2 separate regions of the Homo sapiens genome follow, and region 1 is linked to region 2. A link means that fine-mapping ties the variant in region 2 to the expression of a gene that starts in the linked region. Tissue or cell type: prefrontal cortex. Region 2 holds a variant in brackets; the other region holds the start of a gene. All regions are shown on one strand. Distances are from middle to middle.

Region 1 (8,112 bases), 100 kb before region 2:
AACCTTGAATTTCAGTGGCAAACTAATCCTAGTTTTCAAAAGACTTCCCAGGTTTCAGCAATGAAAATCTTGCACCTTAGGAAATTCCCCAGTCTCAGGTAAATCATGAAGTTGACCTTCCTAATTCCTACCTATTAATATTAGAAAAGCAGTATATATTCAAAGAGTTGTTCCTTTTAGTATGAACATTCAGTATTCCATAATCAGCATAAATATGCATTGAGAACATAGTTTGTTCAGTATTATGTCAAGAATGTTACCTGTATTGTCTCTTTTAATCATCTTAACAATTGCACGAGATTACTATTATTAACTTTATTTTACAACTGAGAAAAAGTAGGCTTACATTAGGCAAATTGTTCAACGTTATACAGCTGCTTACAGTAGAACTAGGATTATAAAACAAGGTCTATTAACCCCTAAGTATAGTGAGAATATTTCTCCTTTGCAGGATTGAATATATTTTCTCCACACTGTGCCAAAAACTGATCACATGGCTTGTGTTTATAATGATTAATGTCTCAATTACAAATCAAACAATATTTTATTAATTATTATGTTATATTATTATTATTTTTTTTAGAGACGGGATCTCACTCTGTTGCCCAGACTGGAGTGGTAGTGTGATCATAGCTCACTGTAACCTTGAGCTCCTGGGCTCAGGAATGATCCTTCTGCCTCAGTCTCCCCAGTAGCTAGTTCAACAGGCAAGTGCCGCTATGCCTAATTTTTTTTTTTTTTTTTTTTTTTTTAGAAACGGAGGTCTCACTGTGTTGCCCAAGCTGGTCTCAAACTCCTGGCCTACATGATTTTCCTACCTCTGCCTCTCAGAGCACTAGGATCAGGTACCACTTATGAAATTCCTCTGACATACCATTTAACTTACCTATTACCTCCATGAAGCTCAGAGAGATTATATAATTCATTCTGGATTAGCATCAAGTTAGACCCAAATCTCTTTGGTTTCAAATTTCATACATTTCAAAGAATTCCATAAGTGATAGCTCTAATTATCCATGTGAGGAAATAGTTTGAATTAAATGGCATAGATTAGCTTATTCATGACATTTTCATTAGCAGAGTAGGAAGAAAGAAGAGAGATAATGTGAATATCAATAACATTTATAGCTCAGTATAATGAAAAAGCATTTGGAGTCAGAAAGGATTAGTAGAAATCCAGCTTAGATACTGTATGACAATGTAGCATCTATCTTCTATGAAATGAGGAAAACAATACATTTTACTGAACATTGTAAAGATAATAATGATATAGTATACACACCCCACATACCTTGTCATTTATTTGAAAAATGATGCCGGGCACTGTGGCTCTAGTCTGTAATCCCAGCACTTTTGGGAGGCTTAGGAGGGTGGATCATCTGCGGTCAGGAGTTCGAGACCACCCTGACCAACATGGTGAAACCTTGTCTCTACTAAAAATACAAAAATTAGCCAGGCGTGGTGGTGAGTGCCTGTAGTCCCAGCTACTCGGGAGGCTGAGACAGGAAAATTGCTTAAACCCAGGAGGTGGAGGTTGCAGTGAGCCGAAATCGTGCCACTGCCCTCCACCCTGGGTGACAGAGCGAGACTCCATCTCAAAAAAAAAAAAAAAAAAAAAAGAAAAGGTAAAAGGAAAAAGAAAAAAAAATCCCTCGCCCCATTCTTAGAGCAAGCTGAAAATCAAATGCTTGATTGTAAATACTGCCCTGAGTTACAAACATTCAGTGATGGAAATGAAATATCAAATTTTCCCTGTAGTCAGCAATGAGATCGCCAATTAAACAGGTGCAGTTCTATTTTCCGGTATTTGTAGGAGAGAAGGTATGGCTCCTAATGTGAAGACACATTCAGAGCTGCAATGTAATTAAAATGACTCAATTATAATGTACTGAAGGTAACCACTAAATAGACAGGTGTGAGTAAAGTCCATTTTTGTTTTGTTGAGAATAATACTATGTTTAGCTTAGGAAAAAAATCCTAATACTATGTTTAGCTTAGGAAAAAAATCCCACCAGAAGTCTATAATTCTTTGGTGAATGAAATGTCACCATTTCATTCATTGTGAGAAAAGAGTACAAAAGAATGGGAATGATTATGGAAGAATTACTATCACCAAGCTGGGTGATTTCCTGGGAGATGTAAGATTAAACCCTCTTTCATTGAACAAGATTGTTCCACATTTGTGGTGAACAACAGATGACCAAGTGTATGATATAAAAGTGAAGAGGCATGCCATCAGAGGTCAATTCAAAGAGTGCAGCATTTCCATTGTTGAGAGCTCAGAGGAGGTAGAGCAGTCAGGAACTAAATTAAAAGTGTTTTCCATTGTGTGTGTGAAGATTTACTCATATACTCCTTTCCTTTTTTTCTTATATTCTTTCTCTCCCCTGGTTGGATTTCAAGACAATCTGACTACTCCCACCCCCTTTGCTTTCATACTGGATATAGAGAAAAGTAATTATGTAACCTGCAAATCAAACAGGTGGATTTGAGAAATGAGAAATCGTACTAAAATAATTGCTTTCGGCTACCACTGTGGTGTATTCAATTTAACAGACACCTGGAGACAACTGGATTCAGAGCCACAGTAATTGTAGAGGAGGATAATTGTGAATATACGGGATTATTTGTATATTATAAACAAAGTGTATATGAATACTGTGGAACTAACGGCAAAAACTCTCGCAGGCAGGGCAGATCCAAGTTTTGTGGCTCTTGACGTTTATATAATTTTGGAGGGCTCTTGATACAAAATTAAGTACAAATATGAATATTAAAAGAAGAAAAATAAACCACAGTAAGTTACTAAAACTTTGGAGACTCAGATCCTTTTCTGAATTTATTTCGGCAATTGTCAGAAGTGCTCGTGTGCAAACTCGGCTTCCTCGCCCCACCTATGGCACTCAACTCCCGGCAACTCCCAGCACACACAGGGGCCCATGCAAGTGAGGCCCGGTCACTGAGCTTCATTGGTAGCATCCTCTGCCTACAAGAACTTCCGTTGTAGCTTATTTTATTTTGTTTGAGAAGCCTAAAAGTACCGTAAAACATAAAAAACAGAAACGTTCTATCTGATGCTTGTCATTTCATCTAAGAGCTCAAAACCCTAGGCACCTTTCACGTACGCGGGTGCTTGCATCTCGCTCGGTTTCATAGGTCCGGAATTGGTGCCCAGCCGGGCCTTGGGGCTACTCAGCAAGTCGCGCGCCCACTGGGGCAGCAGAAGGGTACCGCAGTCCCCTTGCGGCTGAGTGGAGAAGGGAGGGGGCTGCGCGGGGAAAAGCGAGCAGGGGCCGCGCCTCCCGCTGATTGGCCGGGAACAGCCCATAGGGGCGGGCTCTCCGCGGCGCTCGCCGGTCCGGGGTGGCTATATTGGCACCATTCCTGCTAGGTCGAGTTGCTTCCCCGCGCCGAGCTGAACCTGAGCAGAGAGTTTCTGAGGGCAGCGCGGGCGCAGGAAGGGGGGTGAGGCTGCAGTGCGATGAAGCAGCGGCTCAGCGAGCGGAGACAGGCGGTGTGGCTGGACCAGCCGGCCCAGGGCCCGCGCTGCTGTTCCCTAGGCTGCTGAGGCGCGGAGAGCGGCGGGCGAGAGGGAGGAGAGGGATCGGAGCGCGAGGGAAGCCGGCTTGGCTGCCGGCGGCTCTGGTGGGCCTCCCCGATCGGGGTCCCCAGGGTGGAACCATGTGGGTGGCCAAGTGGCTGACTGGGCTGCTCTACCATCTCTCGCTCTTCATCACCAGGTCTTGGGAAGTTGACTTCCACCCCAGGCAAGGTAAAGTCACCGCGAGACGCCTTCAGCGGCTAAGTGGGGGCGCGGGGCCCGAGTGGGACATGCAGGTCGCGGGGACGAGCGGCTCAGCCCGTTGGGGAACGCTGGCCCTGCTGGAGCTCCCGGGACTCCCGGACCAGTCAGCCGGAGAGGTCGCGACTGCGCCGGGTTTCGAGGAATCGCGCGCGCCTAAGACGCATCGCACTCCCAGGACCACACGGCGGGGGCGCAAGGGGCAGGGGGTCGCTTGCACCCGGAGGGAACGAGTTGGGGGCTGCGGGGAGGTTAGGAGGTACTGGGGAAGGAAGTGGGTTGCTTAGGGCCATTAGTGGTAGGGTCTTTGCTTGGGGAGGGTAGGGCAAGTTGGGGGTGTGGGAAAGCAGAGCACTAACCGTCCCAGTGCACGTGTGTGTGTGTGCGTGCGCATCAGCATGTGTGCATTTGTCTTGCCCCTGGCTGTACTGGGACCTGGGACCTTTAGCGGGGACGTTTGGTGGAAGAAGTTTAGAGTTGGACAATGAGGAACGCGTGGGAGCTCACTGGTCCTGTCGCTGTTGTTGCAGAAGCCCTGGTGAGGACACTGACCTCCTACGAAGTAGTGATCCCCGAGCGGGTCAATGAGTTTGGAGAAGTGTTCCCTCAGAGCCACCACTTCAGCCGGCAGAAACGCAGCTCCGAGGCGCTGGAACCCATGCCGTTCCGAACCCACTATCGCTTCACTGCCTACGGGCAGCTCTTCCAGCTGAACCTGACCGCCGATGCATCCTTTCTGGCCGCCGGCTACACCGAGGTGCACTTGGGAACCCCGGAGCGCGGGGCCTGGGAGAGCGACGCAGGGCCCTCGGACCTGCGCCACTGCTTCTACCGCGGCCAGGTCAACTCACAGGAGGATTACAAGGCCGTCGTCAGCTTATGCGGAGGCCTGGTGAGTGTCCTCGGGTCCCTTGGCATTTTCTTGGGATCCAGGCAAGGGCTACATTCAGCGAACGGGGCCTTGGGTTTTCGAGTTGGTGGCTGATGACCCTGGAGTTCAGGTTGGGCTACAAGAAGGATTAACACCAAGCCAGAGGCAACTCCTTCGGAAGGCTCTGGTGGCAGGATGAGCAGGTCTCTGCCTGCTGGGCAAAACCGACCCTCTGTGCAACGCTGATGAAAGATGCTCTTTCATCATCCCTGGAGTGGTGATCAGGGAGTGGCCTGTGGGACCACTGTTACAATGGAGTGTGTTTTCCGAATGGAGGGCAGGCTGTTTGACTCAGATGTACCCTTTCGTGGTCCTATTGAGGCAGAATCCCCCGGATTTACTTAGATAAGTTTGTTTCTGGAATTTGATAGAAGGAAAGGAGAATGAATATACATAAAATGAAATGGCTCCCACTGGCAAGGTCAGAATAGGAAAAGTTCATTTTGTTGATGGTATGGGGATGGCCTGTGAAGTAGAGTAGGGAAGAGGTTGAATCTGTTTAAAATGCATCATACTTGAAAACAGTCTACCTACAGAGATCTATTGGTTATGTCTGTTATATTTTTGTGGTGGTAATCAGTTGACACATAGCTACACCAACCATAATGTGATATAAAAGTATCATTTTATTGGTGATAAAGCCACAGTGTCTGTGGTTTCACCTACCTTCATACTTGAAGGAAATGCTCAGTATCAGAGGTTAGTGAAAATAAAGATGTACCTTTTTTCCATCCAAGTTCATGGAACCCCAGGGTAAGGACAGTTGTTTTAAAACATATATAGGCTCACTCCATCAGTAACTCCTCTGACAAATACATATTCAAGAAAAAACAAGAACTAGGAATTTGGTTACAGGATTCTACAGTTCCTAAGTATCTAGCTTTTGTTTAGCAGATACATACTTTTACAAAAGATACTTCTGGAAGGTGTTCAAAGATATTTTTAGAACATCAACACTGTTTATTCTTTGATTAAATAAAAAATTGATAACATTTCTCTGCAGTTCAAATGTAATACTCCTTTAGCTTAACTGATTTAAGATGTCTTCCTGGATGTGAGCTCTTTTTCAAGTGATTATCTTGAGTTGTTTTTTACATGAAATGGCTAGAACCATTTCCTTTCTTTCTTCCATGTAAAATATTTGCAACATCACAATGGCAGAATCACACTCTAATATTTACATAGCCACCTATACTTCAAAGGATAAAAAATTCTCCTTCTAAAACCTTTCTAAAATAATGTTTAGTTTGTCTGGAAAATCCTAGACTTGCTACCACAAATTTGTCATGGTCATTATGTTTTCTCATGGAAAAGCATTCCAGATGGGAAGGCATTATAGGGAATGCTGTTTCTGCTCATTTTGATTCATAATGTTGATGTAGTTAAATTATTATTCAGTATCCTTTTTTAAAATTTTTAATTTTTGTGGGTACATAGTAGGTATATATATTTATGATCAATATCCTCTTTTTGAATTCAGAAAGCAGTTAAAGATTTTTGAGTCATAACTCTCTAGTCACTGTGTCATTTTGGATACAGTTGCCCAAGTCATCATCATACTTTTTTTGTTTTATAACCTAGTTCATTTTATTAACATATCTAAAAATTAATATTAATATTTTTATAATGTTACGTGTGAAGATTTATTATTTCCTCATTTATGTGGATAATGTATTATACAATATATTATGTGTAAGTTAATCAGCAATGTTTATCTTCTTTAGCAATGTACTCATTAATAAAAAATGAAATCAATCATTTATGTTATATAAATTTTATAATAAAACATTCAGAACAAAATTATTTAATTTAATTGAGGGATTACTAGAAATTACAAACAAATAAAATGATTTGTTCTGAATGTTCTTTTACTAAATTTTTGAAGAGGAAAAATCACCTATAGGAGTCATACTTTGAATGGCAAGTAAATAATCCCATTTATGTACTTTGCTTTTGATAATTTATTGATATTATCAGAAGTAGTTGATAAAACATTTAAACGTTTCTTTTCATACCTCCATAACTTAGCTTTATTTTACATAATTTCTCTGTATTTGCATAAGGCTTAGTTGCATACTTCAATCATTGTAGAGACAGAAATTTTCCAGTAACATTGGAAATAACTAGAGGTATCAAGATCTACATTTTTTTCAGTAGTGTGATCATAATCAATTGTAAGTCTAAATTACTGATGAGATTAGTGACTTTTTAAAAATTTTGCTTTTTTTATATTAGCACTAAAACGGATATTAGCTACCTATTTATGATTATATATATTTATTTCTACACTGACTCTACGATTAAATTTCTTTGGATTAATAGTTTCATCAAATAATAGAACCTGGTAGATTTTAGAATCCATTTGTAATTATACCAGATTCCCCTTTTTAGTCTCAGATCAGCCTTTAGTCTTTGTATCTAGGTAAACTGTAGTATCCGAAACCTGGACCAGATGAATTGTTTGCAGATCAATGTTGATACAAAGCTTGGGAATTCAATAATGCTAACCTGATGGCCCTGCTCCTACTTGCTTCCTAGTTTATCTTTGTCACCTTGTGTACTTGATATCTGACTTTGGCCTCTCAGTCCATTAAACATTAAGGTTGCAGTTTGCTGAAGGATTCTCAGAGCTAGTCTTATTAATTTAGAGATGTTCTCTTCTTTTTCTAGTCGCTTTTTGCTTTACTTTAGTTTTGCTTTTAATCATGAATGGATGTTGTAGTTTATTAAATGTTTTTCCTGAGTATATTGAAATGAGCATCCAATTTCATTTCTTTTTCTGCTAATGAGTGTTGTTTCATATATTGGTGGATTCAAGAATTCATTGACCATTGATAGAAACTGACTATATACAGGGTTATAACGTGTTATGAGGTCTTTGTATTGTTTGGGAGAGGGGTGAGGAAATTGTACCGTCCTTCAGTTCCTCAAGTTTCTGGTGATGTTCTTTGTGCCATAGTTTCATTGTACTTTTCTGTTAACAGCAGCTGATTTCTGGGCCTGAGAACTTATGGCCTTTTTTCTCCTAGTTCAATGAGAGCTCACTGGTCTTGACTCATCCTCCTCTGGGCTCTCACTAGTGCTGTATATCCCTCTGAATTCTGGCTATAATATCCATTTGATTTCTTGTCTCAGTGATTCATTGTGCAGCCTTCAAATACAAAGTCCTGCTGCATCACCTTCTCCAGGTAAACTGGTTTGGTGATGCTATTGCTCTTCTTGCAGACCCCTCTAAAGGCCTCAAGCCCTCTATGGCATTTGAGAGTCAAGAGGGATTCAGTTCCTCTCTTTGTCGAACTCTTCTACACCTCTAAATTTGATGTGTGTAGGGAACCCTTTCAGAGGGTTCCTTCCTTGAGTCCCACATAGTCAGCACCCT
Region 2 (8,112 bases):
ATTCTCTGTCATCAAGAATGCCTCAACAAAGCATTAAGATAAATTTGATGACTTTCTGTGGTCTATTGTACTCATAATCAAAATAGGAATGAGGTCAGCTTCCTAAAAAGATAGAAAATAATAAGATAAAAGGATTGTAAGGAGATTTTGCTACTTTAAGTGTAAGCTTCTACAGTAATGTTTTCCTTGTCCGTTGAAACCATTGATATTCTCCCTTCCTCTTTCCAGCTCTCTGTCACTTATTTTTTATGTACATTCAACAAACATTGATTGAGTAGCTACTAGATGTCAGATACTGTTCAAGTCACCAGGATAAAAGACTGGAGCAGAGAACCCCACTTCCAAGATGGTCACAGATTTGTGGGGGAAATAGGCATGTAAACAATTAGAATGCACTGCTATGGGTCATCTGCAAGGTAGCATGGAGATATTGAAAGGAGTTTCTTATTTTATGGGGAGGTGGGTAAAGGATTCAGAGAACCTTTTATGGAGCGCATAAGACTTGTGCTAAGTATTGAAATGAGTAGGTTTTAGGAAGATGAGGAAGTATGGGAGCAGAGTTGGAGTTAGGGACTAGCAGATGGTTGTCAAATGCACTTTTTTTTTTTCTTAACTCCTTGGAAACACATAGAAGCATTTGAAGTCAAGGGAGAGATGTGATTCGATTTGCATATTGGAATCTTCAAAATACTGGGTTTAGAAGATTGGAGGCAGGTGGTCCATTTAACAGGGTTGTAGGTCAGAGCAGATGAGATGCTGAGTTAAAGCACAAACATTGCAATGGCAGTCTTGAGAATGGATGGCGAGTTTGAGAACTAAGATAGTGAATGTGGTCTAAAGAATATAGTAAGTGTACTTCTATGAGATCAACTTTTTTAGATTCCACATATGAATGGGATCATATAGTATTTGATTTTTGGTGTCTGGCTTATTTCATTTAACCCAGTGTCCTCCAGGTTCATCCATGTTGTCACAAATGGCAAGGTTTCCTCTTCTTTATGGCTGAATAATATACCATTTTGTATATAAACCAGATTGTTTAAATCCATGCATCCACTGATGGACACTTAGTTTGATTTCATATTTTGGCTATTGTGAATAGAGCTGTGATAAACATGGGAGTGTAGATATCTCTTTGATATACTAAATTCATTTCCTTTGGAAGTAGTGAGGTTGCTGGATCATATGGTAGTTCTATTTTTAGTGGATGTTATGTGCTGTCACCACAAAAATGATAACTATGTGAGGTTATGCATTTGTTAATTAGCTAGATTTAACCATTCCTTAATGTATTGATATTCTTCAAAACATTATGTTGTACATGATAAAAACATACAATGTTATCTGTCAGTTTGAAAATAAAAGATAAAAAATAATTAAAAATATAAGTATAAGTTATGAACTTATTCCTTCAGTTAAAGTGGAGCTCTATAGGGCCAACTTCATCTCCCCATGAACAAATACCTTTTACCTTATCTCAGTGATAAAGGCTGTTCACCCAAAGAGCTAATGAGATGTTCAAAGAGAATTAAAATAATTTAAGTCGGAAACAGTTTAAATACTGAAAAGGTTATTCAGTGGCCTGAAAAAAGTTGTGCTTTAAATTAGCAGCATAAAGTCATATGACAATGCAAAAGTTATGATGAAGATTATCTGAACATATAGAGGCATGCTACTTTCAGAAAATATATGCTTAACATTTTGATTTTGAAAATATCTGCCTTGTGTATAAAAAAATTCACTAGGCTTAAGAAATTTTCTTTGCTGATCACTAAATTTAGAAGGCCATTCCAAACAATGGAAAGAGTTATTGCAATGTATGCAGAGGACAGCTTCTTCATGGAGAGGAGCTGCATTTGTTTTTTTGAAATTTCTGGAACAAGCCATCTACTTGTATATTCATTCATTTATTCATTCATTTTTAAAAATAAGCACTGTTATGCTGGGTATTAGTTTTAGAGAAAACTTTACTTTTAAATACTTATTTGAAGCTAAGACTATTTGCAGAGTTCTAAGGTCATGAGTTAAAATAATAACCATGGAAGTCATCTTTTTGGAGTATTCTAATGTGTTACTTACATACTCATACTTTAGTCTCTTTGAATTACATTTCTTTTAAGAGTGGTTTTCAAATGACAGTGGGTATTGGAATCAATGTCAGTGTTACAATGCAGATTCCTAGGTTTTATTTCCAAGTATTATAATTCAGAAGATCTGGGATACTGTCTTTTTAAATACCACCCCATGTGATGTTGATGCAGGAGGTCTGTGGATGACCCTTTAATAAACTTGGCTTTTTAAATGAATATGTGAAAATGTTACATACAACTAGATGAGTATATATTTTGAAACAATTCTGTTGTACTGAATCTCCTGTTAATTGAAAGGATATTTGTGAAAAGAACTTTGTAAACTTTAAAGCACCATGCTTATAGTTGGTCATTCTTTTTTTTTAACTTTTATTTTAGGTTCAGGGGTATATATGCAAGTTTTTTATACAGGTAAACTCGTGTAACAGGGTTTTGTTGTACAGATTATTTCATCATCCAGATACTAAGCCTAGTATCCAATAGTTACTTTTTCTGATCCTCTCGCGCCTCCTACCCTCCACCCTCAGCAGGCCCCAGTGTGTGTTGTTCCCCTCTTTGTGCCCATATGTTCTCATCATTTAGCTCACACTTACAAGTGAGAACGTGTAATATTTGGCTTTCTGTTCCTGTGTTGGTTTGCTAAGGATGATGACCTCCAGCTCCATCCATGTTCCTGTAAAAGACGTCATTTTATTCTTTTCTATGGCTGCATAGTATTCCTTTGTGTATATGTATCACATTTTCTTTATCCAGTCTACCATTAATGGACACTTAGGTTCATTTCATGTCTTTGCTATTGTAAATAGTGCTGCAATGAACATACACCTGCATGTGTCTTTATGGTAGAACAACTTATATTCCTTTGGGTATATATCCAGTAATGGGATTGCTGAGTTGAATGGTAGTTCAGTTTTTAGCTCTTTAGGGAATCGCCACACTGCTTTCCACAGTGGTTGAACCAATTTACACTCCCACCAACGGTGTATAACCGTTCTCTTTTCTGCAATCTTTCCAGCATCTTTTATTTTTTGACTTTTTAATAATAGTCATTCTGACTGGTGTGAGATGCTATCTTATTTTGGTTTTGATTTGCATTTCTCTAATGATCAGTGATATTGCGCTTTTTTTGTAGGCTTGTTGGCTGCATGTATGTCTTCTCTTAAAAGGTGTTTGTTCATGTTCTTTGCTCACTTTTTAATGGGATTGTTTTTTTTTCTTGTAAATTTATTTAAGTTCCTTATAGATGCTGGATAATAGACCTTTGTCAGATGTATAGTTTGCAGATATTTTCCCCCATTCTGTAGATTGTCTATTTACTCTGTTGATAATTTCTTTTGCTGTTCAGAAGCTCTTAAATTTAGCTAGATCTCATTTTCCAGTTTTTGCTGTTGCAATTGCTTTCGGTGTCTTCATCATGAAATCTTTGCCAGTTCTTGTGTCCAGAATGGTATGGCCTAGGTTGTCTTCCAGGGTTTTTATAGTTTGGGGTTTTACATTGAAGTCTTTAATCCATCATGAGTTGATTTTTTTATAAGATGTAAGGAAGGGTTCCGGTTTCAGTCTTCTGCATATGGTTAGCCATTTATCCCAGCACCATTTATTGAATAGGGAGTCCTTTTTCCATTGCTTGTTTTGATCAGCTTTGTTTAAGATCAGATGGTTGTAGCTGTATGGACTTATTTCTGGTCTTTCTATTCTGTTCCATTGGTCTGTGTGTCTGTTTTTGTACCAGTTCCATGCTGTTTTGGTTACTGTAGCCCTGTAGTATAGTTTGAAGTTGGGTAGCATGACACCTTCAGCTTTGTTCTTTTTGGTTAGGATTTCTTTGGCTATTCAGGCTCTTTTTTTGGTTCCATGTGAATTTTAAAATAGTTTTCTCTAGTTCTATAAAGAATATTAATGGTAGTTTTATAGAAATGGCATTGGATGTGTACATTGCTTTGGGAAATATGGCCATTTTAATGATATTGATTCTTCCTATCCATAAGCATAGAGTATTTTTCATTTGTTTGTGTCATCTCTATTGCTTTGAGCAGTGTTTTATAATTCTCATTGTAGAGATCTTTCACCTCCCTGGTTGGCTGTATTCCTAGGTATCTTATTCGTTTGGTGGCCATTGTGAAGGGGATTGTGTTCCTTATTTGGGTCTCAAGTTTGTTAATATTGGTGTGTAGGAATGGTAGTAAGTTTTGTACATTGATTTTGTATCTTGCAAATTTGCTGAAGTTGTTTGTCAGGTTAAGGAGCTTTTGGGCCGAGACTATGGAGTTTTCTAGATATATAATCATGTCATCAGCCAGCAGGGATTGTTTGACTTCCTCTTTTTCTATTTGGATGCCCTTTCTTTTTTTCTTTTTCCTGATTGTTCTGGCCAGGACTTTCAGTACTATGTTAAATAGGAGTGGTGAGAGGGCATCCTTGTCTTCTGCCAGTTTTCAAGGGAAATTCTTCCTGCTTTTCCCCATTCAGTATAATAGCTGTTGTGGGTTTGTCATAGATCGCTCTGATTATTTTGAGGTATGTTCCTTCAATGCCTAGTTTATGAAGAGCTCTTAACATGAAGGAGTGTTGAATTTTATTGAAAGCATTTTCTGCATCT[A/G]TTGAGATAATCATGTGATTTTTGTATTTTGTTCTGTTTATGTGATGAATTGCATTTGTTGATTTGCATATGTTGAACCAAATTTGCACCCCGGGGATGAAGTCTACTTGATTGCGGTGGATAAGCTTTTTGATTTGCTGCTGGATTTGGTTTGCAAGTATTTTGTTGAGGATTTTTGTATCAGTATTCATCAAGGATATTGGCCTAAAATTTTCTTTTTTTTTTGTCGTGTCTCTGCCAGGTTTTGGTATCAGGATGATGCTGACCTCATAGAAGGAGTTAGGGAGGAGTCCCTCCTCCTCAATTTTTTAAATAGTTTCAGTAGGAATGGTACCAGCTCTTATTTGTACATCTAGTAGAATTCAGCTGGGAATCGTGTGATCCTGGGCTTTTTTTGGATGGTAGCCTACTTATTACTGATTCCATTTCAGAGCTCATTATTGGTCTGTCCAGGGATTCTCTTTCTTCCACCTTCAGTCTTGGGAGGGTGTTTGTGTCCAGGAGTTTATCCATTTCTTCTAGGTTTTCTAGTTCATGTGCATAGAGGTGTTCATAGTAGCCTCTGAGAGTTATCTATATTTCTGTGGGGTCAGTGGTAAATCCCCTTTGTCATATCTGATTGTATGTATTTGGATCTTCTCTCTTTTCTTCATAATTAGTCATTCTTATAATATTGATTGTAATTGTGTCTTGAAGGCAGCTGGTTGTGATCACGTGTTAAACTCCAGTGCCAAGATAGACAAATGTGGAGTGTGTGGTGGGGACAACTCTTCATGCAAGACAATAACAGGTGTCTTCAACAGTTCTCATTATGGTAAGTTGTGTATTTGTTTCTAGATTTCGCTTTTATTTAGTATAATAATGGAGTCTGTAAAGAAGGTGTAACAGTAATTCTTTGTTACTGTTTTGTCTACTCTATACCCTTAGTCCAAAATGATTGTTAAGGAAAAATTTCCTAAATATAAAAAAATTAAATACTGTATTAGACCAGATGTATCCTTGATTAATGAATTCACCTGCCCCAGGCAAATCTGATTCTTAAAAATGTATTAGGTGCATTTCTTAGAGTAAATTCAGTGCTATTTGACTGTGATGTGTGATATGTGAATAATCCTCCCATTAATGAAATGGTTTTTTCCCTATAACCTAAAATGTATATATTTGTGATTTTTCCCAGGAAACTTGCTTTCAAATATTTTCATTACTTGAATCACTTTCTTTTTTTGGTATGACTTGACCTATCTGTTACATTTCTTATTAATAGTACATAGAAAATGTTGATTGAAGGTGAAGGGTGAAACCATTATCTTATATATTTTCTGAATTAAATGTTTCAGAATTATTGTCACATTTGATTTTCCAGGCAGTATCTGGATCACATATTGGCCATAATTTAATTTTTCTCCAAAATATCATGAGACTATGTAAAGTATTTTCCATTGTAATGTTTTCTGGGCAATTTTTTTTTGTTTTTATGATAATTAAAGCAGATCTTTAAAACTTTCTTTGCAAATTAAATTTATTTCTTACAACCTTATTTATTCATTTATTTATTTAGAGACAGGGTGCTACTCTGTTGCCCAGGCTGTAGTACAGTGGCACAATCATAGCTCATTGCAGCTGTGAACTCTTGAGCTCCAGCAATCTTTCCACCTCCTCATCCCCAGTACCTAGAACTACAGGTGTTCACCACCATGCCCATCTAATTTGTGTGTGTGTGTGTGTGTGTGTAGAGATGGGTCTCAATGTATTGCTAGGTTGGTCTCAAACTCCTAGCCTCAAGGGATCCTTCCATCTCGGCCTCCCAAAGTCCTGAAATTACAAGCATGAACCACCACACCTAGCCTATTTTTTACAGTCTGACTGTTCAGCTTTAAATTGTGTTCATGTGTGTTCAAATTGTTACTTACTTCCATTAAAACAGTATAATTTAAAACTTAATATTTATGTTTTTATGTATGTGAAAAACATAGTACATTTTATACTCTGATATTTACAAATCTCGGTTACTAGATGATTTGATATATGATTTTTCTAGTTATTTCTTGGGAGCTACACACATTTGATTCCCTTCTATAATGCATGGCACATACTTATTACAGTCTGTATTTACTGAAAAATATTTTTTCCAGGATAAAGCCACATGAACCAAATTAAGATCAAATATGTAATCTTGTGAAAATTGTACTGTGCATTAATCAGTTTGCAAATAGAACAATGCGTTAAACTCATTTGCAAGGTCTGATTAGCATTTGTCACATTTCTGCCCCCTGGTGGTAGCCTTCATCTTGTCACCTTTGCAATGCCTTAGGCTTGCTTTCTTGAAAAAAATATAATAAATAGTAAAGATATAAATAGTAAAAGTAGTGGGTAAGAATATTTTATAGTGAAAAGGAGGTTAATTAAAATTATTCTTGTAGGTCAATAACCTACAACCAGTAGGCATATAGTGTATACCGAATCATGAAACTATTTCTTATCGTCTTACACTAAAAATGTGATGCCTTAGATATAAATAAGTCTGCTCTAAAACACATGCAAGATAGTCTGACATTAGGGTTGTAAATTTAAGCTCTTTTTGAACTGTCTTCTTAAGTTAATTCCATATTTATCAAAGGTAGTGTATGAGAAAAATTACTTTTTACTCATGGTGCAGTTAACTAGGAGGAAATCCTAATAAATAAGGAAAAGGAAAAACTTAGAATAATATCCTTAGAGTATAACTAATTGTATATTTAAAAACCTGCGTATTTGGACAACTATGTAATGTGAGTGTTTTTAGTTTTCATGAAAATGTTTTTTCTTAATATATGTTAGATAAAATGTTTCCTCTTTTGAGCAGTGCCAATGTCGCTGAATTTGGCTTCATAAAATGGAAATATTACATTCATTTCACTTGAGTAAACTTTTTACTTTTCTCATAACAAGTTTATTAGTATTCTTGTAAAAATAATGTAAAATTTGGGGAATAGATGAAGAGATTCCTGCTTATACTACAAACTAAAACTTGAGCTTTAAACTTTTTCTTTTTTTATGATTTTTCAATAATGAAATTGAAAAATTTCATTATTTTGCTGTTTACTGAGTCTGTGTGAATATATCATAGCAATGACCAATTATTTTAATATCTCCTGGACTTGTGAATTGTATTTGAAATCTTCTATTTTTTTCCCAGTATAAAATATAAAAGCATTAACAAAGCTTAAAAATGGGTATGTGTACTAAGGGTCTCAGGAGCTAAAATACTAGCTTCATTCCATTCTATATTAAGAATATTAGAAGTAGGAAAAGATTAGGAAAAGTTAAGAATCTTAAACTCTGTTTCTTGACAACAACCACTTTTTCTCAATCCTCAGTAATTTGTGTAAGGTACTGACTCAAAAAGAATAACCACTGTGTAATTTTGTAAAGACACAACAAAAT

Direction of the effects. Alleles are on the strand shown, and positions count from the first base shown. SD is a standard deviation of normalised expression in the study named.
As copies of G replace A in region 2, the expression in prefrontal cortex of the gene that starts at base 3,400 in region 1 goes up (large effect, 0.90 SD a copy in CommonMind).

The links. PIP is the estimated chance that this variant, and not a neighbour inherited with it, causes the effect.
Region 1: ADAMTS20 starts here. The variant in region 2 is fine-mapped to the expression of ADAMTS20 in prefrontal cortex (CommonMind, PIP 0.95).

Annotation. Positions count from the first base shown.
Region 1 is chr12:43,547,491-43,555,602 of GRCh38, reverse strand. ADAMTS20 (ADAM metallopeptidase with thrombospondin type 1 motif 20) reads left to right here and starts at 3,400. Exons shown (of 39, transcript NM_025003.5): 1 at 3,400-3,772; 2 at 4,333-4,694. The coding sequence starts at 3,682.
Region 2 is chr12:43,443,986-43,452,097 of GRCh38, reverse strand. ADAMTS20 (ADAM metallopeptidase with thrombospondin type 1 motif 20) reads left to right here. Exons shown (of 39, transcript NM_025003.5): 15 at 5,386-5,503. Among named protein-coding and RNA genes, the nearest start is that of ADAMTS20, 100 kb to the left of the region's middle. The variant A/G (reference allele first, on the strand shown) is at 4,690.